Linked DNA regions of Homo sapiens: all the other regions are reported to be linked to region 2. The links are microRNA targets in miRTarBase. Many come from high-throughput screens and were not tested one by one. Region 2 holds a microRNA gene; each other region holds the end of a gene's coding sequence.

Evidence for each region. Region 2 holds the annotated microRNA hsa-miR-519c-3p (AAAGUGCAUCUUUUUAGAGGAU, at 2,047-2,068, shown strand). A microRNA usually pairs through its seed, bases 2 to 8, with sites in the 3' UTR of a target mRNA and lowers its output. Matches are read on the target gene's strand: a 7mer-m8 pairs with bases 2 to 8, a 7mer-A1 pairs with bases 2 to 7 and ends in A, and an 8mer does both.
Region 1: miRTarBase lists PITPNA as a target of hsa-miR-519c-3p. The part of its 3' UTR that is shown has no 7-base or 8-base seed match.
Region 3: miRTarBase lists HOXB3 as a target of hsa-miR-519c-3p. Seed matches in the 3' UTR shown: 8mer at 1,406-1,413.
Region 4: miRTarBase lists ZFYVE9 as a target of hsa-miR-519c-3p. Seed matches in the 3' UTR shown: 7mer-m8 at 3,213-3,219.
Region 5: miRTarBase lists KATNAL1 as a target of hsa-miR-519c-3p. Seed matches in the 3' UTR shown: 7mer-m8 at 1,927-1,933 and 7mer-m8 at 311-317.
Region 6: miRTarBase lists KLRD1 as a target of hsa-miR-519c-3p. Seed matches in the 3' UTR shown: 7mer-m8 at 2,596-2,602.
Region 7: miRTarBase lists MAPKBP1 as a target of hsa-miR-519c-3p. Seed matches in the 3' UTR shown: 7mer-m8 at 3,171-3,177.

The regions. Positions count from the first base shown.
Region 1 is chr17:1,518,003-1,522,079 of GRCh38, reverse strand. PITPNA (phosphatidylinositol transfer protein alpha) reads left to right here. Exons shown (of 12, transcript NM_006224.4): 11 at 435-501; 12 at 1,542-4,077. The coding sequence ends at 479. It overlaps PITPNA-AS1 (PITPNA antisense RNA 1), which reads right to left. Exons shown (of 2, transcript NR_028514.1): 2 at 3,984-4,077. Among named protein-coding and RNA genes, the nearest start is that of PITPNA-AS1, 3.1 kb to the right of the region's middle.
Region 2 is chr19:53,684,476-53,688,552 of GRCh38, forward strand. It overlaps MIR519C (microRNA 519c), which reads left to right and starts at 1,994; the gene lies at 1,994-2,080. MIR515-2 (microRNA 515-2) reads left to right here and starts at 534; the gene lies at 534-616. The region is part of intron 2 of LOC107985342 (a long non-coding RNA gene); the gene reads left to right. It overlaps MIR1283-1 (microRNA 1283-1), which reads left to right and starts at 4,006; the gene lies at 4,006-4,077.
Region 3 is chr17:48,546,794-48,550,793 of GRCh38, reverse strand. It overlaps HOXB3 (homeobox B3), which reads left to right. Exons shown (of 5, transcript NM_001384749.1): 5 at 1-1,924. The coding sequence ends at 460. It overlaps HOXB-AS1 (HOXB cluster antisense RNA 1), which reads right to left. Exons shown (of 7, transcript NR_102279.1): 4 at 2,331-2,419; 5 at 848-905; 6 at 392-454. Among named protein-coding and RNA genes, the nearest start is that of HOXB2, 3.7 kb to the right of the region's middle.
Region 4 is chr1:52,345,427-52,349,503 of GRCh38, reverse strand. It overlaps ZFYVE9 (zinc finger FYVE-type containing 9), which reads right to left. Exons shown (of 19, transcript NM_004799.4): 19 at 2,870-3,444. The coding sequence ends at 3,283. Among named protein-coding and RNA genes, the nearest start is that of CC2D1B, 19 kb to the left of the region's middle.
Region 5 is chr13:30,204,838-30,208,911 of GRCh38, forward strand. KATNAL1 (katanin catalytic subunit A1 like 1) reads right to left here. Exons shown (of 11, transcript NM_032116.5): 11 at 1-3,901. The coding sequence ends at 3,703. Among named protein-coding and RNA genes, the nearest start is that of LINC00385, 53 kb to the left of the region's middle.
Region 6 is chr12:10,314,078-10,318,149 of GRCh38, reverse strand. KLRD1 (killer cell lectin like receptor D1) reads right to left here. Exons shown (of 6, transcript NM_002262.5): 6 at 1-3,477. The coding sequence ends at 3,357. Among named protein-coding and RNA genes, the nearest start is that of KLRD1, 8.2 kb to the right of the region's middle.
Region 7 is chr15:41,824,993-41,829,069 of GRCh38, reverse strand. It overlaps MAPKBP1 (mitogen-activated protein kinase binding protein 1), which reads right to left. Exons shown (of 31, transcript NM_014994.3): 31 at 1,215-3,861. The coding sequence ends at 3,634. It overlaps JMJD7-PLA2G4B (JMJD7-PLA2G4B readthrough), which reads right to left and starts at 978. Exons shown (of 25, transcript NM_005090.4): 1 at 882-978. The coding sequence starts at 945. It overlaps JMJD7 (jumonji domain containing 7), which reads right to left and starts at 978. Exons shown (of 8, transcript NM_001114632.2): 1 at 882-978. The coding sequence starts at 945. RefSeq lists a silencer at 1,001-1,090 and enhancers at 825-1,119, 1,151-1,380, 2,426-3,308.

The DNA of each region.
Region 1 (4,077 bases), not on the chromosome of region 2:
AAAAAAAAGATGTTTCATAAGTATTTGTTGAATGAATAAATGAATGAAACGGGCCAAGTGTGGTGGCTCACACCTATGCTGTAATCCCAGCACTTTGGGAGGTTGAGGCAGAGGATCGTGTGAGGCCAGGAGCCCAAGACCAGCCTGGTCAACATAGGAAGACCCCCCCACACACACCTCTTTACCAAAAAAAAAAAAAAAAAAAAGGTGCTTCAAACACCGTGACACGAGAGAACTAGAAATCATGGATGGTGAGACCAGTGACACAGATCTGGAAATGTATGGCTTCGAGTCCATATGCAGAATTCTTCCGTCCTTCCAGTGTCTTGCTTTTTACACAAAATATGCCCCACCCCACCTATGGGCAGGACTGAGAAGGCAGGAGTTCCATCAGCAGCAGGAGCCTTCCATTTGTCCTGCTTTTTTTGTTCCAGATGAGACAAAAGGACCCAGTGAAAGGAATGACAGCAGATGACTAAAGCCGCCTTTCCCCTCTGCACTGTACGTACCAAATTTCTCACTGTGCGTGTCACAGACGCTAAAATCAGTTTGGGTTTCAAGGCCTCAGCAGCTCACTATGGAGTCAGAAAACCTATTCCTCCTTCCCTCTAGTAATGATGGTTGCCACGCTCGATAGCTCTCCACTTCCACTAGGAGATTATGGCCCTTGGGACATTTCAGGGACATTTTCCAAAGAACCACCCAGATAGAGACAATGGACAGGGAGGGGGTGGTGGATATAGAAGGGGAGTTCATCTGCTGCGAATCACTCCTCCTGTCTGCCAGCTTGATCCATCTCAAGTTGCAGCTGTCATGTTGGGCACTCCCTGGCCTTCCCACGCCAGCGCCAGCTCCCAAAAGCTGCCATTACCTGCCCTTCCCCCTTGGAAAACTTGCTGGCCAGACAGCTTTTGTTAGCACCCACTGTTGTCTGGTGCTTCATTTCCTTCTTTATACCCCCGATCCCATACTAAGCTGCCCTCATCAGAGGTGGCATCTTTCAGATGCTGGGAGGGTGTTTCTGCCCAGGTCACAGGGCCAGATTGGGGGCCCCTTGTTTCATGTTGTCACTTTTCCCCAAGCCCCCTCCTTCCGTTAACTCTCGGTGCTGGTTTCCCAGTGCCCTGTACACCACCCGAGTCATGGGATTCCAGCAGCTCAAAGCAGTCTTAATCACTGAATGAAAAACCTGGCTCTGCTCCCAATTAGCCTCAGAGAGAAAATTATTTTTACAAATAAAAGCTGGCCTCTAACCCTACGGGCAAGGAGGGCCAGGGTCTCACCAGGAGTGACGGCAGGCCCTGCTTACTCTCCCTGCCCCATGTTCCCAAAGCAGCCTCGGGGAGGCTGGAGGGTGGAATGAGGCGGACTGCTGTGATGCCAGCTTCTCAGTCACTGCTCTGGGCCTCAGTGCTCTCCCCCACTCCCTTCCCCACCCACCCACTGGCTTCCCTCCTCCTCTTGAAATTATCCATTCAGGACGATTTACAGTGTTTCTGTTTTCTCCTCTTGCTTCCTTAATACTTTCATTTTTCTTCTAGTTTTGCAAGACAGTGGTCAACAGGAAGACCCAGCAGCTCCACCCTCCCAAGTGACAGGCCATTTTCGGACGCAGCCGTTCTGTGCCCATTCTTCAGGCAACTTTCGATTCCTTACTGTAGCTAATTCTAGATGCCCTTCAGTATTGTGAACAAATAGACCGTCTGGTGTCACAGAGCCCGCGTGTGCAGGAGCCTGCTCCTCCGAGATACGTGGCGTGTAGGTTGCTGTAGTTACAGCGCCTCCGTCTCTCTCCATTGTGTTCCGATCCATTTCTGTGTGTTCCCCCAACCTTTATTTCCAAGTGACATTTTCAGTCTTTCAAATAGCTGCCTTTTGTGATGTGGTGATTTAAATGATTTAAGTTCATTTGTTCTCAACCTTGGGGTAAACTGAGGTATTTTGCTTCCTGGGAAGATCTTCGCAATTTTGAGTGCTCCTGTGGGGAGCGGGGATGAGCTAAAGATACAATGTTTCCCTGCCCCGCACCGCTTCCACAAAATAGCAATGTGGTTTTGCAGCTCTGACTTCTGCTCCCAGTAACCCATCGTTAGGGCACTCTAGCACTATGGAGGTACCCAAGGCTCAGCCAGTCTCTATTTAAGAAAATTTAACAAATACGAGTAACCCTGTCCCAATCACTGAATCTCTAGTTACTACTCTTAGAAACACCTGTGGCTTCTTGGCCCTCCTGTTGCCCGCTCTGAATCTCTCTGCAGTCTACAAAATCGCCCCAGTCAACTCTCCACTTGGAGGGAATTGTCCAGTGTGGCCCCTAGAATTGAGTCACCCCCTAGATACCAACTGTCTGACCCCGAGGAGCTCTGTAAGTCCCTGCTCCTCCTCTTCCCTTTGGGGCTGGTGCTGCCACTCAGCAATAATCCTCTTTTCTCTGTGCTTTCTTAGGTCCCTGTCCTCTGTCTTTGAGGCTGGTTAGGAAGCAAGAGTCCTGATCTTTCATGCTGCACAATATGAGCATGCAAAAAGCTTTTTCCAGCAGAACATGTTCCCTCGTCTCCAGTTGCCGGAAAGGAATTTGGGGATCAAGAACTTAGCTCGTCCTACCCCCATGTTGAGTTCTGCCCTGGAAAACCCAAAGCAAGTAGTGATCATAGTACAGAACCCGACCAAAGTAGGCTGGTGAGGAAGTCCAGGCTCCAGGGGAACAGACGCTGCCCAGTGTTCATAGCTTCCTGCAACTTGACAGAGCCTGAGTTTGCCTCTTAGTGGGAGAATGAGAGAGAGCTGTAGTGTCACCTGACATTCCCCAAACCTTGTGAAGCACGTTGGCCTAAGTGTGCCGTGATCCCAGCCCACACTAGCCTGGGTGCATCTGCTAATGGGAGACCAAATCTTTGTCCGGGAAGCAAGAAGTGGGTGGGAGAATGTATCCTGTTTTTGTCAGTTTGTTTGCCTTACTCATTTCTAAGTGCAATAAGGGAGTGTCTCACAGGATTGCACCTGTGACATCCTGATGGATGCTTCCCTGTGGCCCTCCTGGGGCAAGGGTGGACAGACTCAGACCCCCAGCATGGTTAGCGCTGACCTTCATTGAGGTCCCTTTGGAACCAGATGTCTTGTTACAGACACCTTCCTCTGTGTAAGTCTCCTCACCTTGAGGGGTCTTTAGTAATGCATCTGGGTAGCATCTCAACTGCTGGTAGCATTTATCTGACTTGGAAAGTTGGAGAAGAGGCATTCCTACTGGAGAAAAATGTCAGTGTTTTCCTATAAGCTCTGTGTTAGCTATTCATTATATTTGTGCTTAAAGATGTTCCTTCATTCATCAACTAGGGGAAGTCCAGATGCGGGTTATCTTGAAAGAAACAAACTGACATTCTAGGCAGACAGTTGTCTATGTGGTCTGAGGGTCAGCAGCTGTTAGTCTCCTTCCTTTGGCTCTTGAGACCCACACATATCACTTTAGCCCTAACAAGGGCTCCTCCCACCTCCACCTGTTGCCCCAGTTGAAAAGCATCCATTATGAGCTGAGGTCAGCCTGGATCTGGAATTGCAGCCCACATAAACATAAAGGAGGATGTCCCTGGTCTGTTCCATCCCCACGGATGGTGTTGCTGCTGGGCAACAGTGTTGGCTTCTTTTAAGTACCCCCTTTCCTCCTCACCCACCTCCAAACTGACTAGCACTCAGAGGGACTTATGATAAAGGTTCAGCTCCAGGGGTAGTACCTGAGTGTGTGCCATGCCCCTTCAGACCAGCTGCTTCCATCAGAATTCCAGGGTCACAGCCCCAACAGAAGCAGCAGTGCCTCTGTAGGAGGGGTGCTGGGCTCTGGCCTTCTCATGCAGAGAGGTCCGGGACAGGGTCAGTATCGTGGGCATGTGTATAGCTTCCCAAGTTCTTTTACAGTCCCTGCTGGGACTCCCTGACTTACTTTGGTTGGTTCCTAGTGCTACTTGTTTTACAAACTACACTTTGTAGAATTGATTAGATTACCTTGTTTATTTAATGTGAGTTTGTGCCTTTTTGTCTCAATCTTCCAATACAGGTATATTGAGAAAAAAAGCAGTCTAATAA
Region 2 (4,077 bases):
GCTTGCAGTGAGCTGAGATCACGGCCCTGCACTACAGCCTGGGCAACAAAGTGAGACTTGTTTCAAAAAAAAAAAAAAAATTTATTGAGGAGCTTTTATGGCCTAGCCTGTGTTCTATCCTGGAGAATGTGTGTACAACAGTGTATATTCTTAAACATCATCTTAGATTCCATTTTGGATGCTTGCATGGGGACTGTGTGTCCCTGTACTGGGACTTATGTGAACACTTGGCTTCAAATCCATTGCTGTTCTCTAGAAATCCAGCCCAATTCTCATGGTTAAATATAAGGTATGTGTGGTAGGCATTGCTTTTTCTCTTTGGGGACAGAACTCAGGAGGATTGTCTCTTGATGAACAAGGCTAACCTGCTGAGCCTTTGAAGCAAGGAACTGGAGATGGTCCTTTTAGGGGTTTATATTCTGGATTCCAGAAAACATGCAGAGAGAGTCAATAAATGTATCTTTATTTTTGTGTCCATTTTAACCAGGTGAGGAAAATTCCGTCAAAAAACCCAGACTTTTGGAGCGAGAAGATCTCATGCAGTCATTCTCCAAAAGAAAGCACTTTCTGTTGTCTGAAAGCAGAGTGCCTTCTTTTGGAGCGTTACTGTTTGAGAAAAACCACGTTGAAGTTGATGCTGATCTTGGTAACACATTTGCAGAGCGTGCTTATCATCAGACTTGCATGATGTTGGGGTTCTGTTTTTGTTTAGTTGTTTTGCATCATGGGGTCTCTGTTGCCCAGGCTGGAGTGCGGTGGCGCTTCCAACCTAGATCTCTTGGGCTCAAGTGGTCCCGTGCTTGCTTTTTTTTTTTTTCTTGAAACAGAGTCTCTGTCTCTGGCCCAGGCTTGAGCGCAGTGGCATGTTATCTGCTCACTGCAACCTCTCCTCCCAAGTAGATGGGATTACAGGTGCACGTGCCACGACGCCTGGCTAATATTTGCATTTTTAGCAGAGATGCAGTTTCATCATGATGGCCAGGTTAGTCTCCAACTCCTGACCTCAGGTGATCCGCCTGCCTCAGCCTCCCAAAATGCTGAGATTATAGGTGTAAGCCACCCAGCCTAGCCTCCAATTTTTTTTAATGTGTGCTGCCAATGCAAGCACATATGTGTAGGAATTATTTTTCATGTGAGCACATAGTATATGGAACTTAATTTTTATTGATGTACGGTCTCAAAAATATATATTTTATCATATTCTTATTATACATGTAACATAGTCATATACACACAAAACACTCTTCTATACACAGAGAATACTCTCGTATCACTTTGGGTAATTTTTTGTTTGTGTGTGTATGTTTTTGTTTTTTTTTTAGATAAGGTCTGGGTCTGTCACCCAGGCTAGAGTGCAGTGGTGCCATCTCAGCTTATTGCAACCTCCACCTGCCACTTCAGCCTCTTGAGTAGCTGTCTACAGGCGCACACCACCACGCCCGGCTAACTTTTCTGTTTTCTCTACACATGAGGTATCACCATGTTGCCCAGGCTGGTCTCAAACTCTTGAACTCAAGTGATACTCCTGCCTCAGCCTCCTAAAGGGCTGGGTTTAGAGGTGTGAGCCACCACACCTCACCTGTACCTGTGTGTTTCTGCTCATTTTATTGAGGAGCTTTTACAGCCTGGCCTGTGGTCTCTCCTGGAGGGTGTTTGTGTGTGTGACAATGCATATTCTTCAACATCGTAGATTCCATTTTGGATGCCCCCGTCGGGACTGTGTGTCACTGTACTGGAACTCGAGTGAACACTTAGCTCAAAATCTATTGCTGTTCTCTAGAATCCAGCCCAATTCTCATGGTTAAATATAAGGTATGTATAGTCGGCATTGCTTTTTGAAACAAGGAACTGGAGATGGCCCTGATAGGGGTTTATGTTCTGGATTCCAGAAATCATGCAAACAGGGCCAATAAATGCATCTTTATTTTTGTGTCCATTTTAACCTGGTCAAGGAAAATTCCAACAAAAAATCAATGGTGCTGGAGCAAGAAGATCTCAGCCTGTGACCCTCTAGAGGGAAGCGCTTTCTGTTGTCTGAAAGAAAAGAAAGTGCATCTTTTTAGAGGATTACAGTTTGAGAAAAGCAACGTTAACGTTCATGCTGATCTCGGCAATACATTTGCAGAGCGTGCTTATCATCAGACTTGGATGAGGGTGGGCTTTTGTTCCTGGTTTGTTTGTTTTCTAAGACGGGGTCTCTTTTGCCCAGGCTGGAGAGCAGTGGCACTTCCAACCTAGCTCTCTTGGGCTCAGGTGGTCCTCTTTGCAGGGTCACGATCTCTGCTCACTACAATCTCCCCTTCCCGGGTTGAAGTGGTTCTCCCATCTCAGTCTCCTGTGTTGCTGGGAGTACAGGCCCATGCCACCACGCCCGGCTAATTTTTGTATTTTTAGCAGAGATGGGGTTTCACCGTGTTGACCAGGATGGTCTCCATCTCCTGACCTCGTAATCCACCTGCCTCGGCCTCCCAAAGTGCTGGGTTTACAGTCATGAACCACTGCACCCGGCCTTTGATCTTAATTTTCAATATGAGACCCATCATGAATTTGGGCATCACCTCTGCACAGGGGCCATGGTGATCTCTGTCACTCCATTCATTTCTTATGTGTGGAGCAAACATTTATGTGTAGGAGTAATTCTTTATGTGAGCATACAGTATATGGAACTTTCTTTTTTTTTGAGATAGGGTCTGGAAAATAAATGATGTACAGCCAGGCGCATGAGTATATGAGCAGTTTTTGTGTGTATACGACATGAGCGGTGGCTCATGCCTGCAATATCAACACTTTGGCAGGTTGAGGCGAGTGGATCACTTGAGGTCAGGAGTTTGAGACCAGCCTGACCAACATGGTGAAACCCTGTCTCTACTAAAAATACAAAAAATTAGCCAGCTATGGTGGCGCACGCCTGTATTCCCATCTGCTGGGGAAGTTGAGGGAGGAGAATCACTTGAACGGACAGATGGAGGTTGCAGTGAGCCAAGATCACGCCACCACACTCCAGCCTGGGCGAGAGAATAAGACTGTCTCAAAAAAAAAATATATATATACATATATATTTATATAGAGAGAGAGACTCTGTCTCAAAAAAAAAAATATATATATGGGTGTGTTTGTGTGTATATATATATTATATATGATGTATATTTCATCATATAGCCATATATATAATTATATACACAAAAAATACTCTTCTACACACAGAGATGACTGATATCACTTTGGGGTGGTTTTTGCTTGTGTGTTCTTTTAAATTTTTTTTTGCAACAAGATCTGGCTCAGTCGCCCAGGTTGGAGTGCAGTGTTTCAGTCTTGGCTCACTGCAACCTTCGCCTCCCACCCCAGCCTCCTGAATTAGTGTCTACAGGCATGTACCACCACACCTGGCCTACATTTGTATTTTTTTACAGACAGGGTTTCACCGTGTTGTACACGCTGGTCTTGAGCTCCTGAGCTCAAGTGAATCTCCTGCCTTGGCCTCCTGATGTGCTGGGATTAGAGGTATGAGCCACCACACCCAACTGGTACTTGTGTATTCCTGTTCAAATTTTATTGAGGAGCTTTTACCACCTAGCCTGTGGTCTATCCTGGAGGATGTTTGTGTGTGCGACAATGTATATAGTTCAACATCTTAGATCACATTTTGGATGTTTCCAATGGGACTGTGTGTCTCCGCACTGGAACTCAAATGAACACTTGGCTCAGAATCCATTTGCTGTTCTCTGGAAATCCAGTCCAATTCTCTTGGTTAAGTATAAGGTATGTCTAGTAGGCATTGCTTTTTCTGTTTGAGAACAAAACTCGGGAGGATTGTCCCTTGATGAACAAGGCTAACCTGCTGAGCCTTTGAAGCAAGGAACTGGAGATGGTCCTTTTCAGGCGTTTTATTCTGGATTCCAGAAAACATGCAAACAGGGCCACTAAATGCATCTTTATTTTTCTGTCCATTTAAACCTGGTCAAAGAAAATTCCAACACGAAACCCAGAGTGCTGGAGCAAGAAGATCTCAAGCTATGAGTCTACAAAGGAAAGCGCTTTCTGTTGTCAGAAAGAAGAGAAAGCGCTTCCCTTTTGAGG
Region 3 (4,000 bases), not on the chromosome of region 2:
ACACTCCATGACCCCCAGCTACGAGAGCCCGTCCCCACCCGCCTTCGGTAAAGCCCACCAGAATGCCTACGCGCTGCCCTCCAACTACCAGCCCCCTCTCAAAGGCTGCGGCGCCCCGCAGAAGTACCCTCCGACCCCGGCGCCCGAGTATGAGCCGCACGTCCTCCAAGCCAACGGGGGCGCCTACGGGACGCCCACCATGCAGGGCAGTCCGGTGTACGTGGGCGGGGGCGGCTACGCGGATCCGCTGCCGCCCCCTGCCGGCCCCTCCCTCTATGGCCTCAACCACCTTTCCCATCACCCTTCCGGGAACCTGGACTACAACGGGGCGCCCCCTATGGCGCCCAGCCAGCACCACGGACCCTGCGAACCCCACCCCACCTACACAGACCTCTCCTCTCACCACGCGCCTCCTCCTCAGGGTAGAATCCAAGAAGCGCCCAAATTAACACACCTGTGATGGGAAAGGGCGAACGAGGATTAGGGGATGGGGAGGAAGAGAGAGACTGTGGAGCTCTGGGGGGCAACCTGGAGGTCTGAAAAGAGGAGCCAGAGAAGGTGGTACCCAGGCTTCCTGGTCAGAACCGGCCTGGAGCTCCTTCCCTTCCCCCTGGCCTGAGAGGTTGCTTTTAAGTCTTCCACCCCTTGTTCCATCTGCCTGCCAACCCATCGGAAAGGAATCCACATCATATTGGAGATGACCCCATCAACCCCAGGGCTCCAGCACTACCAAGTTGGAATTCCACGCCCGGGAGTGGGGTAGAGGAAGACGAGACAGGACGAGGCAGAAAAGCACATTTTAAAAACCAGACAAGATGGCTAGGCCATCACCAACCAACGGACTTACCTTACATCTTTGTAGGTAATTCCCCCCAAATCTTGATTTTTTTTTTTCCTCAATTATCCTTTAAAAAATAAGAAAACACATTTCAAACCCAAAAGGCACAAAACACGTTCCCTTCCAACTTTCCCAAAACCTCAAATTTGTTCCCATTTGAGGTTTATTGAGGTACACTTCTAGCCCCCGGTTTTTCTGCTCTAGAACATTCATATCTATACATCCCACCCCCATCAATTACAGTTTTTAGAGGGCTCAGGGATGGTGAGAGATCCTGAAAGAGCTGCCTATATTATAAATTATATACATTTTTTTTTAAGGAAAAGTGTGGAGGCTAGGGCAGGCAGGTTGTTAGGACTGAAGGTTTGCCCATTCTGCTGCCTCCATCTCAGCTCCAGCTCCATCCCCCTCTCCACAGAAAGCAGTTGGTGACACGAGGTTCTATACTTTTCTTCTGTTGCTCTCTTGACTTAACGTGAAAACAGGGTATATTTGAACAAACTGTCCCAGGCAGGGGCTGGGCAGGGCCTGTGTGCCTTGCTCAGCCTCCTGACAGGACACTTTTGTTGCACTTAGAATTTACATTTTAATGGATGTAAAAACAACTGTGAGAGATGTCTGGGCCTGCAGAAGTCCAGCATTGCTCAAAAAAGCGTGTGTTCTAGTGAACATTTTCATATATATTTATTGGTTATAGCCTGTTAAAATATTTTCTTTTTTGTATTATTTATCCCCCTACATTATGTATTTATATGAGGGAAAAAAAGGAAAAAATTGTACTTTTTTAGTATTTACCTGTTACAAAGGACATTGTGTTTCCTGTCATGTAAAACCAGCTATTTTAGTTACTATTGTACTCTAGAAAAGAGCTGTAGATTTATGTTAAACTCGTACTTACGAACAATTGTAATTAGTTCTAAAAGGCATGAACTCAGCTCCTAATCGTCACTGTATAGTCCTGAATTTGTAGAACTAGAGTTAATTCCCTCTTGGAACTTTCTTTGTTCTTCAGTAGTTACTTTTTTCCTTACCTAAAAGGGTTGTCTGTCAAACAATTCTTGAATAAACTTTCTGTTATCAATTTTATCTTGTCCTGGTGGTCCAATTTAGATAGCAGAGCAAGGCTGCTGACTGCCAAATTTCCCCCAAGGGAAGAAGGACAAGGACAAGGACACTGAAGACCCTTCCCTGGCCTTTTTGTCCACTGCCCAGGTTCCTGTCTCCCCCTTGATATGTCTTAAGTTTAAATACCATTTTCTCACTCATAAGAGCCTGTAACATTTTGCCAACTTCTTCAGCTGTGGTTTAAGTAGCAAGTTGGGAGGTAACGGGGGACTCTTGGATGCTCTCTGTAGGTTTTTCTGTTTGGCCTGTATGCCTCTAGGTTTTTCATTCATTGACCTTTCGTCTGTTAGCTCCTTTGGCCACAGCGTCCATGCACCCCCCACCCCCCACCCCTTCCCACCACCACCAAGAAAATCTGGCCGATTACGGTTTCTTCCACGAAACCTAAACTTCACAATCCTCTTCCGGAGCCACAAAGAAGGTGTCACGTGACCCGAAGCCCAACCACCATTGGGTCTAAAATGAAAACAAAGAAAAATGATTAATCTAAAAAAAAAAAAAAAACAAAACTGAGGCCTAGACTTCTCAGGTCAAACTTTAAAACTAAGTAAAATTAAATCACTAAATAAAACTCGAGGCGGAGGGAGGGGAAGCACGTTCGATTTCCCCTGCCAGAGAAAGGGGAGAGGAGGGTGGGAGAAGCTGTTGGATCCAAGCGTAAATAAAACGGTCCCCAGGCTAATGTGCGGCTCTGTTTCCATCATCCTTGGGAAAACTTCATTTCTTAGTTGTGGTTCCATAAAAGTTTTATCACATTGGAGTGAAAATAGAGAAGGTCTGTCAAAGATGAAATGTCACCGCCGAGTCGCTGGAGCCGATAAGAGCGAGAAGACAGGGCGGCTGAAATATGGAGCTAATTCGTTGAAAGAGAAGCGATGGCTGCTTGCTGAAGAGCTGCATAATTCTAATTGTAAGCGATGTGCCCGCATTGCTTAATTAGGAGCATATATTTGGTGGTAGTGATGTTGGGGGAGTGAGAATCGTTCCAGGCCCTGCCTTAAAGAGAGGGCTGATTTTCATTTTTATGTTGCATCCTGGCAGTCCAAGGTTAGTAATTATAGTCTTTATGCAACAATAAATAACAATAAAAAAGCAACCTGAACTCTACGCCCTCCCCCTTCCCCACCACCAAGTAGGATTTTAACTGGACTCATCCAAGCAGCAAGCAATTTAGCATTGGGTCAGGCTATAATTTAAAGGCATAAGAGCGTGCAAAGTTTGATTGGGATCAAATAACGCTCAAGGGTTTTTCTTTCTTTCTCTTTCTCTCTTCTTCCTTGAATAACATTTTCTGAATGATATAACTAGATGAAGCACCATGTTTGGCTCTGGGGCTGGGTTGGGTTGTTATTTATCTAGCAGGAAAGAGGCCAAGAAAGAGAATTTAGCTTAAGTTTGAAAAACAGAGCTTTGGCTCGAAGCTGGAATTGCAAACAAGAAAAATAAGAACCAACTTGGCTTGGTGTTCCCTATCCTTCTCTTTGGAAGATTCCAGGCGCTCAGCTAAAGCAGCCAAAGACGTGGGTAAAATATCCGTGCTGTTAAATTCACAGCAGGACAGGGGGGCGGGGGAGGGATGTCTCTGAAAAGGAGGGTTCTCTGGGCCCCTTTTAACACCCAAGTTTTCCGCTGTTTGCTAATCTGGCCATAAAATCTGTCAGTGAGGGTTAGAGAGAGCTGTATTTCCTGCAGGGACAGTCTGCCCGAGTTGCCTGAGATAAGCTCTGGATCCTTCAGCCAGCTACAGAAGCTGTTGCTAAACTTTCAGAGGTGTTCAAGGGGGTGGCCAGAGGGAGAACCCACTCTCAGGCCTCCCTGCATGACTTCCAGACAGCTACTATTTGGATTATTCTATGCCCACCCCCATCCACACCTCTAAATGGCAAAAATTGTTTTCTTTGGAGCCTAGTTGCACACTACTGTCGCTGGCCACTTTGCCCAGGTCAGAGCAGCTCTCTCTGTTCTGAGCCCTCCAGAGCATGCCTCCTCGGTCCCTGCAGCCCCCACCTCCAACTCCCCTTTCTCCATCCTCCTCTC
Region 4 (4,077 bases), not on the chromosome of region 2:
TTGCTTTATATAATTCTTACAATATACATTGTATAAAAGCAAGGATAAACAAGGAAAACAATTAACTATCATTGGCTATTTTATGCCCAATTCCACAAATGATTTTACTAAACACAGAGGACATTTGATGCAGCTGAGAAAGGATCTGAGGGCCAGAGTTTGTCCTTAGTGGGAGAATTTAAAAGCTTGCACTGAACCAGAATAAATAAGTACAATGGCAAGCAGGAAGATAAACCACAGGAAAACAGGACCAGTCCCTGTAGAAGTTCCAGACTTTTGAGGTATGTTCAGACAAAGCTGGCTATTAGACCAAAAATAAGCTGCCCCTGTTAACAAGTGCTTCCTGTTCTTGTCAGGTTTGGAGGTAGTGGTTACCAGGGCTCGGTCCTGACAAGCTGCTGCTCTGTGGGCCAAGCTTCCCCTTAGAAGCTCTGAGTACCTCTGAGCCTGTGGGAAAGGTCACAGTAAGAGTTCTGTGCAACCACCGTCGGTAAAACCTTTGGAGAGGCAGATGTCGACTATAAGCTCCCACCTCAGAGAGCAGGATGAACCTACCCAGATGTTTCCCAGGCCAGGCCTTTAGGCCTCTGGAAAACAGCTGCTGCCGCAAACACAGCTCCACAGCCTGCTGTTGCCTCGTGCTAAACCCAGCACTAGCCACTGGGGAGCAGCCTGTCGCTGTCCCACAGGCCTGCGCTAGCTTCCAGGGAATTCTTGGAGCTGTACTAATACTGCAGAAAAACTAGTTTAGCCTTGGCTTTCAGAAGATGCCAGTGACAATGGAGTACATTGCCCTAAAGCAGTATTTTCAAAATGTGCATTGTGGAATCCATTTGGTCTAAGATCAAAATAAATTTTTAATGAAACAGAAAAAGGTCAGAGTGCATCACACATATCATGGATAAACCAGATTTTGGTTTCTAATACCACTCCCATTAAAAGAAGCCAGGGCTCCTTGCAGAAATAGCTGATTCCAGGGCTAGGGCAGGATAAGCACAAGATAAGCCTGAAGCATCTTGTTAGGATAGAAATAAAAAAGAAGTACTCAAAAAAAAAAAAAAAAAAAATAGCATATCACCAGGATGTAGGAGCCAGCTTGAAGGGTCTCTTGTCTAGCTAAAGCTGAGACCATTTGTGCACCAAAATAATGAATTGGAACCACTGAAAAAGGCCAGGCTTGGTGGCTCATGCCTGTAATCCCAGCACTTTGGGAGGCCAAGGTGGGGGGTTTGCTTGAGCCCAGAAGTTTGAGGCTGCAGTGAGCTAAGATTGTGCCACTGCACTCCAGCATGGGTGACAGAGTGAGACACTGTTTCAAAACAAAACAAAGCAAAACAACAGTCCATGAGTGTATAATGAAAATTAAATGAATAAATTGGGAAGGAAGGGCTTCTGCTTATAGTAGATTACCAAGTGCAACCTGTAAAGCTGGAGAATGCGCTAGAATTGGAAAATCATTTTGCAAACATAGTAAAAGATCAGTGCAGGTAAGAAACATCAATGCATGCTAATTTAACGGGACACTTTCATAGGCAAGAGATTTGCATGGTCTGAAAGTCTACATATACTGGTTATAAGTTCCAGGTAGGGGGATATACAGAGAAGTTGGACACCTTGACCAAGTGATCAAAATTTACCACTATCAATGAGGGGGCAGATGGATATCAAGTCATTATGGGCAAAAACACATAAACTGATTCTAAATATGAGGAAATATCAAACTGAGTTGTTTTCTGTTAAAAAAAAAAAAACAGGGTGGGGTTGGGGGTGGCTACATTCACCAAAAATATCAATGAGGCTGAGTGCGGTGGCTCACACCTGTAATCCTAGCAGTTTGGGAGGCAGAGGATGGCGGATCACTTGAGATCAGGAGTTGGGAGGCAGAGGATGGCGGATCACTTGAGCTCAGGCCTGGCCAACATGGTGAAACCCTGTCTCTACTAAAAATACAAAAAAATTATCTGGGGGTGGTGGCGGGCGTCTGTAATCCCAGCTACTCCGGAGGCTGAAGCAGGAGAATCGCTTCAACCTGGGAGGCGGAGATTGCAGTGAGCCGAGATTGCACCACTGCACTCCAGCCTGGGTGACAGAGCGAGACTCCGTCTCAAAAAAAATACATATCAATGACATAAAAGATCAAGATGAGTCATGACAGCCATAGCCATGTCTGATTCTATACTGGAAGGTTTACTGGAGGGAAAAAATGCTACAAAGAACATCACTGGGCAGATGCCAGGTTAAAGTATCAAATCCATGTTTGACTGAAGTAGAGAACTGTCCTACAGTTGTGTAAGAGAATATCCTTATTTTTAGGAAATAAGCATTTAGGAGGAAAGGCCTATGATGTACGCAATTTACTCTCAAATGCCTCAATTTTTTATGGAGAAGGAGAAAGGGAGAGAGAAACCCTGACAAATCAAATGGGACAAAATGTTAATAAGTGAACAAGAGGGGAATCTGGGTAAAGTGTGCGTGGGGTTTTTTGTACTTTCAACTTCCTAGAAGTTTAAATTATTTCTCAATAAAATGTATTTTTAAATTCCTCCAGTATTTATAACTAAAAATGTCCTGGGTGTATTCCATCAGCATTCACAGAAATACCCAGTTGAATACCTGCCATCCACACGGGCAGATCTCCAGCAATCCTGAACTCACCTCTGCTCTCCACATGACATTTACACTGAGTTGCCCTTCCGAAACTGGAAGAGTAGATTAAGCCCTTGAGTCTTCGATTCACTTCAATGAATAATCTGGTAAAAACAAAAATCTAAGTGTGACTTCTACTTGATAAACAGCTGTGATGTAACTGGGACAAGATCAGTGTGGAATTATCCTTTTTATACCAATTCTGTACAAAGAGTGCAAGAACTGATGCTTTATATTTTATTTCCCCTCTGCCCTCCCATCCCACCCTTGGTGATGGTTGTACCCATTTGAGCATTTCTGAGCACATGACCATAAGTAAATCTTGAGAGAGGAGCGGAATTCTTGTCTAAACAGTAACAGAAGGGGATTAGCTGCAAGGATAGCATAACTGTTGTGCAGGAACAGAAGCTGCCCAGATCTTCTTGGTGGACAATGCATAGAAGACTTAGAATTATGGAACATCGGTCCCCCCAACCACCCTTTCCCACCCGTCTCCCAAACCCCCACTCCCACCCTATTCCCCACCCCATTAATAGTGTTAACAAAAGCTTAATCTTCCAGTTTTAAAGTGCAAATGATTTGGGTATGACTGCTGTTGCAACAAGTCTGAACAGAAAAAAATGAAGTCTTCTCTGTTTATACGATGTTTTCCAGAATATAAAAGATGAGTTCCATGACAACGGGGCCCTCACTAAGCTGGCAGGCCCCTCCATGGATCACCGGCACCAAGGCGCTGTCCAGATCATTCATGTACTGCGAGGGAAGGGGCTGGCCATTGCTCCCTGCTTGATAGCCAACCTATACCACAGAGAGAAAAGGAGGAGAGGTTACTGAACAGAGAAGGCCTCTCCAGGGCTGAGGGCAAGGAGGCTGAGCAGGAAAGGAGATGTCCTTTTTGGCCATAGGCTAAACATATGGCAGTGAATACAAATTTATCCTCTTTTCTGGGTGATCACTTATCCTGTTGTTTACTCCTCCTGACCACTTGACAACCATGAGGCACTGGGTAAGCCACTTAACCTGTTATGGTCTTAGTTTTCTGGGGAAGGGTAGAGGTGTGTAAAAAGGTATGGAGTATCAGAAATAATACCTTAATCTTTGGTTGTGAAAATTAAAATGAGAAATACACAATGTACAGCTCCCTAACCTAGTAGGAACTGAATATTTGTTCTTGCATCCATCTGTTCATCCATGCACCATTCTGAGCAACTACAAATGCAGGGATCCAAAGATGAATGTAACAGGGCCCTGCCCTCAAGAGGCTCACATATTTAGCAGAAAAATGCTTGTTCTTTGTTTTATGTGAGATAGGACCAGAATACTTCATTAGTATAGCATTGGGCAAGCCGTTAAGCAGAAAATAAATATTTGTTGATTGATGACTAGTCAGGAACTGGGGCCAGACACAGAACCTTTCATCATTCCCTGATA
Region 5 (4,074 bases), not on the chromosome of region 2:
AAATGGCTAGGTATTGTGGGAGGTAGTGGTCAGACCCGAAAGTGTGTAGATAAAGTCTGTGATGCCACCATCTATTGTCTACTTGGATCACTAGAAGGTTGCAGCTTCCATTAAAGAGGTGTTTATTTTACTAATATTAATTTCCTTTAAAAAAAGAAATTATGGGGGCAAAAGGTTTATAGTAAACATGTCATGCTTATAATAAACAGGCAGCTTGGGAAATGGTAAAAATTGTTCATTAAAATAGATCCATAATAGTTACACATTATTCAAATAAATGTATATCAGTTCTAATTTCAAAACAGATTTAAAGTGCAAAAAATAGGGGAAAAAAACTTTTATATATTTTTCCAAAGCACAAACAGATTACTATGCCTCTCCATCAGTGATCTAAACTCTTGTTTCAGTAGTAGAAGCCAGAAGCTATACAGAGTCGTTAGAGAAACTGCCAAGTTTGAACTGTACTCTCTAGTCCAGCTTTGTCTTGGTCCACAGAGCTCCTACTCACTGTGTCTTGGACCAACCAATACACGTCTACAGAATGAAGGGACTATCTGATCAGATATCTGCAAAGCAGACTTAGCTTAGTCCTACAGTCATTGTGCTGCAGAACTCAAAATACTCATGTTTTCAGAGGAATTAAAGGAGCCAAATATTTTTCCTTTGATAATGCATCTGCTACCGCAACACTGAATAACAAAACAAAACGAAGCAAAACAATTCAATCTCATTCTGGGTAAGGCAACACACTGTCTTCTGCAATAAAGACAGTCAGAGTGTGTGTGTGTGTGTGTATGTGAGTGTGAGTGTGTGTGTGATGTACATTAAAAGTTAGGGCTGGGCACAGTGGCTCACGCCTGTAATCCAAGCACTCATTCTGGTAAGGCAACACACTGTCTTCTGCAATAAAGACTGTGTGTGTGTGTGTGTGTGTGTGTGTGTGTGTGTGTGTCTCACGCCTATAAGGCAACACACTGTCTTCTGCAATAAAGACTCTGTGTGTGTGTATGTGTGTGTATGTGTGTCTGTCTCACGCCTGTAATCCTAGCACTCATTCTGGGTAAGGCAACACACTGTCTTCTGAAATAGTGTGTGTGTGTGTGTGTGTGTGTGTGTGTGTGTGTGTGTGTGTGTGTGTGTGTGTGTTGTATATTAAAAGTTAGGGCCAGGTGCGGTGGATCACACCTGTAATCCCAGCACTTTGGGAGGCCAATGTGGGCGGATCATCTGAGGTCAGGAGTTCGAGACTAGCCTGGCCAACATGGTGAAACTCTGCCTCTACTAAAAATACAAAAAAATAAGCCGGGTGTGGCGGCAACTGTAATCCCAGCTACTCAGGAGGCCGAGGCAGGAGAATGGCTTGAACCTGGGAGGCAGAAGTTGCAGTGAGCCGAGATCATGCCACTGCACTCCAGCCTGGGCGACAGAGCAAGACTCAGTCTCAAAATAAATAAATAAATAAAATAAAATAAAATAAAAGTTAAATAGAACACCTGAGGGATGTCTTTAAGATCCTTTAAGGGATTTAAGATATACAAAGCATCTACCATCCACTGACAGGGCAAAATGAGAAACAAGGGAAATAAAAAGCACACCTGACTCACTTAACATAGTAAAGTTAGGCTCCCAGGAAGTTTAAGTTGCCAAATACTGCTTAACTGGTATTAAAAGAATCACAATTACTATGTCATTATCCATGAAGAATTCAGAAAAATAATTAAATGCACACCAAGATAATCAATACAAAACCCAGAAAAGGTCTAACTAATCAACTATTGTTAGGCTGGTGCAAAAGTAATTGCGGTTTTTGCCATTGAAAGTAATGGAAAAACCACAATTACTTTTGCACCAACCCATTACAAACAAGTTTTAACAATCACAAGACTAATGTTTTAGTGACGGCTCCTAAAACTTCAGGGAAAAAAAAAGTGCATTTCTGACTGGCAATAGTTTGCAAAATAATCGTAATGAAACTACTTATTTCTTTATTTTAAAAGTTAATAAAAGGAAACCTCTCAATTTTTAGGAAGAATTCAATTACAATAAAATCATGATGTCTTATGATCTGGCATCTTATAATCTGTGTCTCAGAAAGAAGGGCAATTTACAGCATCAGATGAATACTGGAGTTTAGGTCAGACTTAAGTTATCTGAAAAGAACATAAGGCATTTACAGTTTTTAGCAGGGAAAAATAATCAAATCTCTTTTTTTAAAAAAAACCTTCTTAGTATCTTGGTTAAATGTCCAAAAAGCTGTATTATTTTTAGTTTTAAACCAGTAGGCACTATTCGAAACTGAGAATTCAGGATGTTATCAAATACAAATTTTTAAAAGCTTGACCATTAAAGCATAAATTGCCTAATGAGACACATGTAATCATAAAAACTAACGCCAGGATCATTTACTTGTGATTGGATATATGCCATTTATTTTTCTGGCTTCTTTCTAATGTGTAATTCCTGCTGAATTGAGTGAGCATGTCAGATTTCTATCTTTATCTTAGTGTGTGTAAAAGTTCTCAACCTAGACAAGGACAAATTTTAGAATTTTCCAATGAACATCATTCACTATGTATGATGCTGTTTTGTTAAACTAGCTGTTTGGAAAACAATAAAGATTTCATTTGTTTTGCGTTAGCCACAGAGAGTGGACTTGTTTAGAATGTAAAAGTATTTATCTCAAATACTAAAATCAAACTCAAGAAAAATCAAACAATGCTGGAGCTGAGAAAAATAATGGCTATATATCTGGTTGAACATGTTGAAAGAAAAGTGAAAACACAGCCAGGCATGGTGGTGCGCACCTGTAATCCCAGCTACTTGGGAGGCTGAGACAGGAGAATTGCTTGAATCTAGGAGGCAGAGGTTGCAGTGAGCCAAGATCAACCACTGCACTACACAGCCTGGGTGACACAGACTCCTTCACGCACACACAAAAAAGTGAAAACAAACTTGGAAGTCTAGAATGAAGAATTACATCTAATGCAGTAATATTCTTCCCACCTTTCCATATTAAATGTAAGAAGCACCAGCAAAAAATACTAAAGACAGAGAAATGACCTGGCAAAATGATTCAAATACCACAGAGCGTGAGAATATTCCTCAGTAAAGCTCAAGATATTATGAAGTAGCTAGCAGAAGAAATGGCAGGGGTAGCGGAAGTAAAAATTCTAACCATATGACAGACTCTAACAGTAAGTCATAAATTCTAAAGGTTTAATTAGTAAATTCATTATTTCCTCCAAAATATACTGTCATTCTTCTCTTAACAATGAATGTTTGACACAAATCCAATTTTGATGTTAAAAGTCAACATACATAGATAGGTCCCTCATGTTGACAGAGCACAGAATTGGAAAAAAAAACTGCAAATGAGAAATAGGGGTATTTCTAAATCTTCTGTATTCCTAAAATATCACACTGCGCCCTTGCTTCAGCCTCCCTGATAGACTGGTTTGGGTGTGCAATATTAATGCAGGAATACGTGGAATACCAGCACAAAGCCGGGGAGGGAGACTAGCAAACTCTCGCCATCAATTATTTCTCAACTACATTTAGTATTCTTCGCAGTTTTAGATTTTTTTTTCCTTTAAGCGAAAACCACTCCACTGAAAAAAATTCCAAACTTGTTTTTTAAAAATTGCAGGAATTTCTTCGTATTTTATCAACAAAAATACCAGAAATTAAAGAGCTGACAGAAATTCAAGCAGATCCAAATTCAACCATCCATTTTTCATACTTCTCCAAGTCTGCAGCAGAGACAGACTTAGCAATTTTCTTTAGGGCCAATTCAAAGTCTCCTTTGGTAACAGGCATCTGAAGTTCCTCTTTAGAAAGTGCACGGATTTCTTCTGGACTTAAGCCATTGATACGCCGTCTCATTGCCATTAAAGAGGCATCCCTAAAAATATACCAAAATCAGTCAACAGTAATTTTTGCACATGTTTTAAACACTTTCAATTGTAACAAAGTTATGAAAAAAAAATCAAAAGATTATTTTATATGTTTTTATGAGGCTTCTTAGAATTTTCCACTTAAGAAACATCCTGGGGGTTCAGCAGAAGTTAAGACAGG
Region 6 (4,072 bases), not on the chromosome of region 2:
AATAACTCACTTTCTTATGCATGCAATATGAGAATACAGATGTCACTAACTGATATGGCTTGGCTGTGTCCCCACCCAAATCTCATCTTGAATTGTAGTGCCCCTAATCCTCACGTATCATGTGAGGGAACTGGTAGGAGGTAATTTAATCATGGGGGTAGTTACCTCTTTGCTGTTCTCATGATAGTGAGTGAGTTCTCACTAGATCTGATGATTTAATAAGAGGGTATTTTTCCTTTTGCTCAGCACGTCTCCTTTCTGCTGCCATGCGTAGAGGGATGTGTTTGCTTTCCCTTCTGTCATTACTGTAAGTTTCCTGAGGCTTCTCCAACCCTGCAGAACTGTGAGTCAATTAAATGTCTTTATTTTATAAATTTCCCAGTCTTGGGTATATCTTTAGTAGCAGCATAAGAACGGACTAATACACTAATGTTGTGGGTGAGCAACGGCTACCTGGGCCGGTGGCATTGAGGTAAAAGAATTTACCAAGACAGCTGTAGGTAAAGGAAGGCAGATTTATTAAAGAAAAGTAGGAAAATATGTTTCCAGGGAGGCAACAGGCAGCATCAGCAGAAGAAAAGCTGACTGCAAAGAAACAAAGGCTTGCTTAGGATTTTATGGAATAGTGTTTATGCTGTATGCTGCAGAGGGCTTTGTCCAGTACTGATAATGCCAAGGTTGCGGTGAGGTAACTTGCAGGTGTCTGGTAATAGTTTAGCACATGGCCCATATCCTGGACCATGAAGAAAGGCAGACTCATAGCTTATCTGCTTTCTCTTTCTGCTTTTCCCTGCTCCCGCCAGCCTAACTCCTTTTCCCTAATTAGGACTTCACAACTAACGGAGGAACTAATAATTAATGTATTGAGAAAAACAGAAAATAATTACTTGTCCTCACATGCACACGTATGTTTATTGCAGCACTATTTACCATAGCAAAGACTTGGAACCAACCCAAATGCCCATCAGTGATAGACTGGATAAAGAAAATATGGCACATATACACCATGGAATACTATGCAGCCATAAAAAGAATGAGTTCATGTCCTTTGCAGCGACATGGATGAAGCTGGAAACCATCATTCTCAGCAAACTAACACAGGAACAGAAAACCAAACACCACATGTTCTTACTAATAAGTGGGAGTTGAACAATGAGAACACATGGACACAGGGAGGTGAACATCACAGACCAAGGCCTGTCGGGGGGTGGGGGGCAAGGGGAGGAAGAGCATTAGGACAAATACCTAATGCATGTGGGACTTAAAACCTAGATGATGGGTCAATAGGTGCAGCAAACCACCTTGGAACATGTATACCTATGTAACAAACCTGCAGGTTCTGCACATGTAACCCAGAACTTAAAGTAAAATAAAATAAAATAATAATTACTTGTCCTAGCATATGGGAATCAAGGAACCAAAAGGCAGTGTTTAAATTATATAAACTGGCCGGGCACAGTGGCTTATGCCTGTAATTCCAGCCCTTTAGGAGGCCAAGGCGGGCAGAATCCTTGACCCCAGGAGTTCAAGATCAGCCTGGGCAACAATACAAAACCCCATTTCTACAAATGATACAAAAAATTAGCTGAGCATGATGGCTCGCACCTGAGTCCCAAGTACTCAGAAGGCTGAGGTGGGAGGATCCCTTGAGCCTGGGAAGTTGAAGCTGCAGTGAACCATGATTGCATCATTGCACTACAGCCTGGGCAATGGGAATGAAACCGTGTCTCAGAAAAAAAAATAATAAAAGTAAAAAATAAAATAAGTGGCATAAACTATGAAGTAGCAGTTGTAACATATTTTTAGGATTATGTGGGTACAGTAGGCATAACTCTAAAGTGGTTTCTAATTGGTACACCAGTGGCCTAGTGTACACCTGCATAATCCCTTCCCCTTTTGTTTGAGTAGGATTTGGGATTATGATGGGATGTTACTCCGTGGTTGGAGTACACTAAATAACAAAGGTGAGGCAGTTTTTCAGATGCAATTAAGGTTCCAAATCCTTTCATCTTTTTTTTTTTTTTTTTTTTTTGGAGAGGAGTCTGGCTCTGTCACCCAGGCTGGAGTGCAGTGGTGCAATCTCGACTCACTGCAACCTCCACCTCCTAGGTTCAAGCGATCCTCTCGACTCAGCCTCCCAAATAGCTGGGATTACAGGTGTGCACTACCACACCCAGCCAATTTTTGTATTTTTAGTAGAGACAGGGTTTCACCATGTTGGCCAGGCTGGTCTCAAACTCCTGACCTCAAGTGATCCACCCGCCTTGGCCTCCCAAAGTGCTGCGATTACAGGCATAAACCACCACACCCAGTCCAAATCCTTCCATCCTAAGTCAATCAAAATTAATTTTTTCATCACAAAAATGATGAAAATAGATCAGCTTTGATTCATAACAGAGAAAACCACTCTAAGTGTTAAAATCAAAACAGAAGATAATGCCTAATGAAAGGAGGTCAGGGGTATAGGATAGTTGGTGGAAAAAAATATTGATAATCATTACATGCTTGCCTGTATTATTTTAAATTTTTTAATTAAAAAATATATTATTTTGTAGTCACATGGACAACAAAACCAAAACATTACAAATCTCCAGAAAGTGCAATGCATAAGCTCTCTTAGTTCAAATTAAACATTTGAAAGATATTATTTTTCATCCTATATCTTTTGTCAGTTACCTGAAATGCATTTTTCCCAAATCAATCTTCATACAAGAATGTGAAGAGGGCCAGGGATGGTGGTTCACACCTATAATCCCAGCACTTTGGGAATCCAAGGTGGGAGAATCCCTTGAGGCCAGGAGTTCAAGACCAGCCTGGGCAACATAGCAAGACCTTGTCTTGACAAAAAATTAAAAATTAAAAATTAGTCGGGCATAGTGACATGGTGCCTGCAGTCCTAGCTACTTGGGAGGCTGAGTCAGGAGGATCACTTGAGCTTGCAATGAGCTATGATCTTGCCACTATGCTCCAGCCTGGGCAGTGTGAGTTAAATTTTATTTTCTAAATTTTATTTGATGTGAATTAAATCTTATTTAAATTTCTGCTGAGAATTAGCAAGAATGTAAATAAAATTACATAAATGTGTAATAAAACTACATTGAATTTAACATTAAATATATACATTAAATGAAAATACAAAATTCTTTATGTTAATTTTATAATTCTCAAATGTAGGTGAACGAATTTCATCAATTTTAAAACACATTGTTTCACATACATGACAATTGTATATGACACTGTTTAAAAACATTTTATAGACTCCAGAAGTAGACAATTAGTAATAATATAACATGCAACTGTATCATTGTTAGTAATGTTGGGTCTTTACTCTCCACCTTCTCTGCCCCAAGAAACATTTAAATGAGCTGTTGCTTACAGATATAACGATTTTTATCTTCACAGGATTCATCTAAAGCATTTCCATTTGGATTATACGCTATGCAGTTCTTTGTATTAAAAGTTTCAAATGATGGAAATCTGTAATGAAGAAGAAAATGTTCACATACACAAAAAGGAAGTAAGAATGTTCAGGGCATTTTTCAATTAAATGATATAAATTTTAAAAGCATTTGAGTGAGATACTAACATATTGAGTCCTTTTTTTTTCAGTAACCACAATTTTCATGATTTTCTAGTGTAATGCTACAAAATACCCAGTTATTTTCTCACTAATCAATAGCATTGAGGCCAGGGATTTTTTCCTTGCTGTTTTTCTGTTGTCATTAATGGTTTAAATATGTGATATGCTTTTCTTCTATTTTATTTAAGATGTATTATCTGATCTAGTCTAGGAAAACAAACCAGAGCATAAACTTTGTCCCTGTGTGATGCTGCAAATCTCATGTTTATAAATGAAAATGAGATTCAAAAAGTACACACATACAGACAATGAGTCTATAGTATATAAAACATAAGAGCATGCTGAGAATATTGGGGTCTACCAGAATAAATAAAATAATAAATATACTATTTTTTTGGACTGCCTCTGTGTATATGAGTATCTGTACATGCACATATACTTCCAAGTGCTGGTACTAAGGCAAAAATAAAGCATATGTTAAAAGTTCTTTTA
Region 7 (4,077 bases), not on the chromosome of region 2:
ATCTCAAACACACTGAACAGAGCCTGGCACACAGAGATGCTGAATAAGTATTTGTTAAATCAATCCTCAAAGTATTCGTTGCAGCATTATTGAAAACAACGGATTGGACATGACCTAAATGACTAAGTGAATACAGCACTAGCACACAGACGTGAAAAAGACTGAGGTAGAGGAATGTGAAATGATCTCCAAGATACACGGTGCAGAAGAGTGTGTTTAGCAGGCTACTATTTGTACAAAAAAAGGGTAAAAAGTCGTGTGTGCACGGATATAAACAATCTTTCTGTAAGAATGCAAACTGGGGCTGGGAGGAAACCTTGCTTCATTTACATTGCGTACCACTGTATATTACATACCCATCACATACACATGAGCCTGTGTTGCTGTTCAGTGGTAAGAAATCATTTAAAAATAGAAAAAAGAAGGAAGGAGGGAAGAGAGAAAGAAAGAAAAGGAATAAAAACCAAGCAGGGGAAGAGCCAGGGACCATTTGGTCAGCCTGCAATCCTCCCAAAGTGCGACAAGGGAGTTGAGGTCGGAGGTGGGGCGCGTGGGGGAGGAATCCGACCACCAGCTGTGTGCCTTCGATGAGCTTTCAACAAGGGTAACAGCAAGCTGCTCAAGACTGTAGGAAACACAGGGCTTCGCCGCGACCACGGTCAAGACGGCACCGGGCCTTGGGAACAACGTGAACAGAATCACCCAGGAAGCCGCGGGAGCGCGCGAACACGGGAGAAGGGAAGCAGGTTGCCACAGAAGAGCAACCCGAGCGGGGCCTCAGGGCAGTCGCACACACGAGGTTCCGAGCCCCCGGTGTCAGCGGCATCCCAGGGCCCCTCCCGTGTTCGGAAATCGCCGCAGCCTGTGGGAGAGCCACTCACCCCTTGCAGCGGCCGGGAATTCTCGTAACTCGCTCCGCACGGCTTCCAAAGCCGCCTCCGCCATGGCTGCGTCAGCGCCGGCCGAGACCCCGCCTTTCCCCGACGCCCCGCCGCAGGCCACACCCCAAGCACTCGCCCCGCCCTCCCCAGAGTCCCCGCCGCAGGCCACACCCCCAGACCCTCGCCCCGCCCTTCCAGAGGCACCCGCCGCAGGCCACACCCCCAGCACCCCGCCCCGTCCTGCCCCTGGACACACACCGGGTTCTGCCACCGAAGCGGTGGAGCGACTGGCAGCGCCCGCTTCGGCCTGCCCCACTGGCCGGCATCCCAGGGTTAACAAACAATTGTGTTTATTGACAAGTTCATACATCAGTACAAACGGGCACGTTAAAAACAGCGCCCCCGCCCCATGCAGCCGAGGATGAGGCAGGAAGCGCCGCGACCTGCACAAAGTATAAAAGTTATAAATAAGGGGCTTTCAAAACAAGGCGGGGGCAAATCTGGAGTGGGGCGGCGGTTGCCGGTGGCCTCAGACATGCAGAAGGGGACGGGGCGCCGGCCGGGCCACGAGGCCCCCCACCCACATGGGGCAGAGGGCAGGAAAAGGGCGGCCACATTCTCACAAACTTCTGGCGAAGGGTAGCTCCCTCCTCGTGAAGGACCTGGCCCAGAGGGCGAACCTGAGTCCCACCTGCGGTGGGCGCGGCTGGTGTGGGAAGTCGGGGCACAGCAGGCACGGGCCCGCCCCCGCCGCCGCGGGAGTTCCAGGGCCATGCGGGTGGCGATGCTAGAGGAGTGGGGAAGGGCCAGGTTTGGAGCAGCTCAAGCGCACTCAGGCTGATGCCCCGGAGCTGGGAACCTTTTGTAACCCTTTTTCTTTTTTTTTTTTGAGATGGCGTGTAGCTTTGTCACCTAGGTTGGAGTGCAATGGCGCGATCTCGGCTCACTGCAACCTCCACCTCCACCTCCAGGGTTCAAGCGATTCTCCTGCCTAAACCTCCCGAGTAGCTGGGATTACAGGCGCCCACCACCACGCCCAGCTAATTTTTTTATTTTTAGTAGACAGGGTTTCACCATGTTGGCCAGGCTGATCTCGAACTCCTAACCTCAGGTGATCCACCCGCCTCGGCCTCCCAAAGTGCTGGGATTACAGGCTTGAGCCACCACACCTGGCCCAGAACCCATTTCTTTATAAGCCTCTGCCTATGGCGCAGCAGGGCGGGTGAAGGGGCTCTCGTGGCCTGAAGCTGTGGTAAAGCTGCTCTGACTTACCTGCAGCAGAGGGGAGCAGTAGGGCCCAGAAAAACCTTTCCTCAACTCTTCAACTGCCTCACGACATGGTCCCACTCTACCTCCTAGGGTCCCCTATCTCCTTTCCCTCACCCCTAATTACTGCCCTTTTACATTCTAACTTATCCCCTCACCTCTGCCACTTACCTGTCCCATCTACCACTTTTCTAGTGTCTCCTTTGGCCCCAGCACCTCCCTCCTCTCAAACTCCAGTATCCAGCACACCCGTGGGTGCCCAGCACTGCCTTTGAGGAGGCTCCTTCTACCTAAACCAGGTGTCCTATGGGCTATCTCGTATCAGCTAGGCTGTGGACACCAAGAATCCAGAATCTGGGTTCACTTAGTGTACTGCACCCCTTTTCTGCTCCCTGATAGGTGTTCCACATAAGCCAGGGTGGTGAAGCTGAGGCAGGATGTGAGGAAACCAGGCACACAGCAGCCAGCCAGATACTCTAGCAACCAACACTCAACAGCGTGCTGTGCAGGTAGGTGTGTGTGTGTACATGTGTGCACGTGCATGCGTGTGATCTCATCTGTGGCTGAGGTCCTCAGGAGGTAGGCCAGCGCCCCGTAAACGAGGGATGTTCCAACACAGGCTTCTGACTAAGCATCATTCAGGATGCAGGGAGAAGGTGGCCTCTGGGCTCCAGCAGCCGGCTGGGGTCCAGGGTGGAGGACAGGGAAGAACAAGGGGCTGAGGAAAGGAGGCCAGAGCTTCATGTTTGCCCAGGTGAGGGCTTACTGTCCTGCAGCAACATCCCACAGCTGGCTCAAGTTCTGGCCAGGAGAGTAAGGGGTCACAGGGAAATACAATGCTGGGCCCCTCTTGGAGGGAGAATGGGAGTGGAATGTGCGGGCTCAGGTCCAAATACCAACTCAAGTCTCCTGATGGCTGGGGACACCCTGGAGGGCCAGATGGCTCTGCCTTTCTGAGCTCCAGGTATTGGGGAAAACCACCCTGCTCTGGCAGCCACGGGAGTGCAGCTGGTGTGAGAGGGGAAGTGCAGGTAGAGGTGAAGGCCCACAGTTGGCTGACGGGCACTGAATACCACATCACCTCTCACCTCGACCCCAGAGTACCCTGTGTATGCTCCACCACAGGGAGCTAATCCCTGCAGTAATTTCAAATGGCTTCTAAGAGAGGGCCAGCCCTTCCCAGATTCCTAGATGGGGCAGGCTGCCCTCCTACCTCTCACAGCACCAAGATGACAAAGACCCAAGACCTGTCCCTGCCACTGGAGGGGCTGTGGAGGCAGGAGTTCCAAGGAAGTGAGGCAACAGTCAGGGAAATAAATTAATAAATACAGGCCCCCCACGAGGAGCGGCTGGGAAGGCTGCTTTGCCTCTGAACACTGCTCCCTGCTTTCCACTCCAAGCAGCCCCGCAGGTTTTGGTGAGGGGCAGAGGGGCTGCAGTTTGGAATCGCTGGAGCATTCATTCACTTGGGACAGGCTTCCAGAACTCAGAGTTTGCGTTCCATACGCCGTTCCACGGCTCGAAGCAACAGTTCTGAGTATTGCTCCAGCAGGGCCTGTGTCTGCTCGGCTCCCACAGCCCCAGGGCTGCTGCCTGGGCTGGACAGCACTGCCCCAGCCACAGCTTCCAGCTCCTGTCGCACTGAAGAGAAGGTGTCTCTGAGGAGCTGGGCAATCCGACTTTGCTCTGCTGAGGGCATCTTGCAGCCAGCCACCTGAAATAGCACCCCCAGAAGTGAGGTGGAGGAGCCTGTCAACAGACATATAAAAGGGAGGGGCCCCACCTGGGTCCAGCCTGCCTCAGAAGGGACTAGCTGGGAACTCTACCCGCCAAGATCAGCATGTATGGCCAGGGAACATGGGATGCAGGCAGACTCTGGGGGTGACGCCCAAGGAGGAACCCATTGGATTGCAGAACCGTCTACATCTTA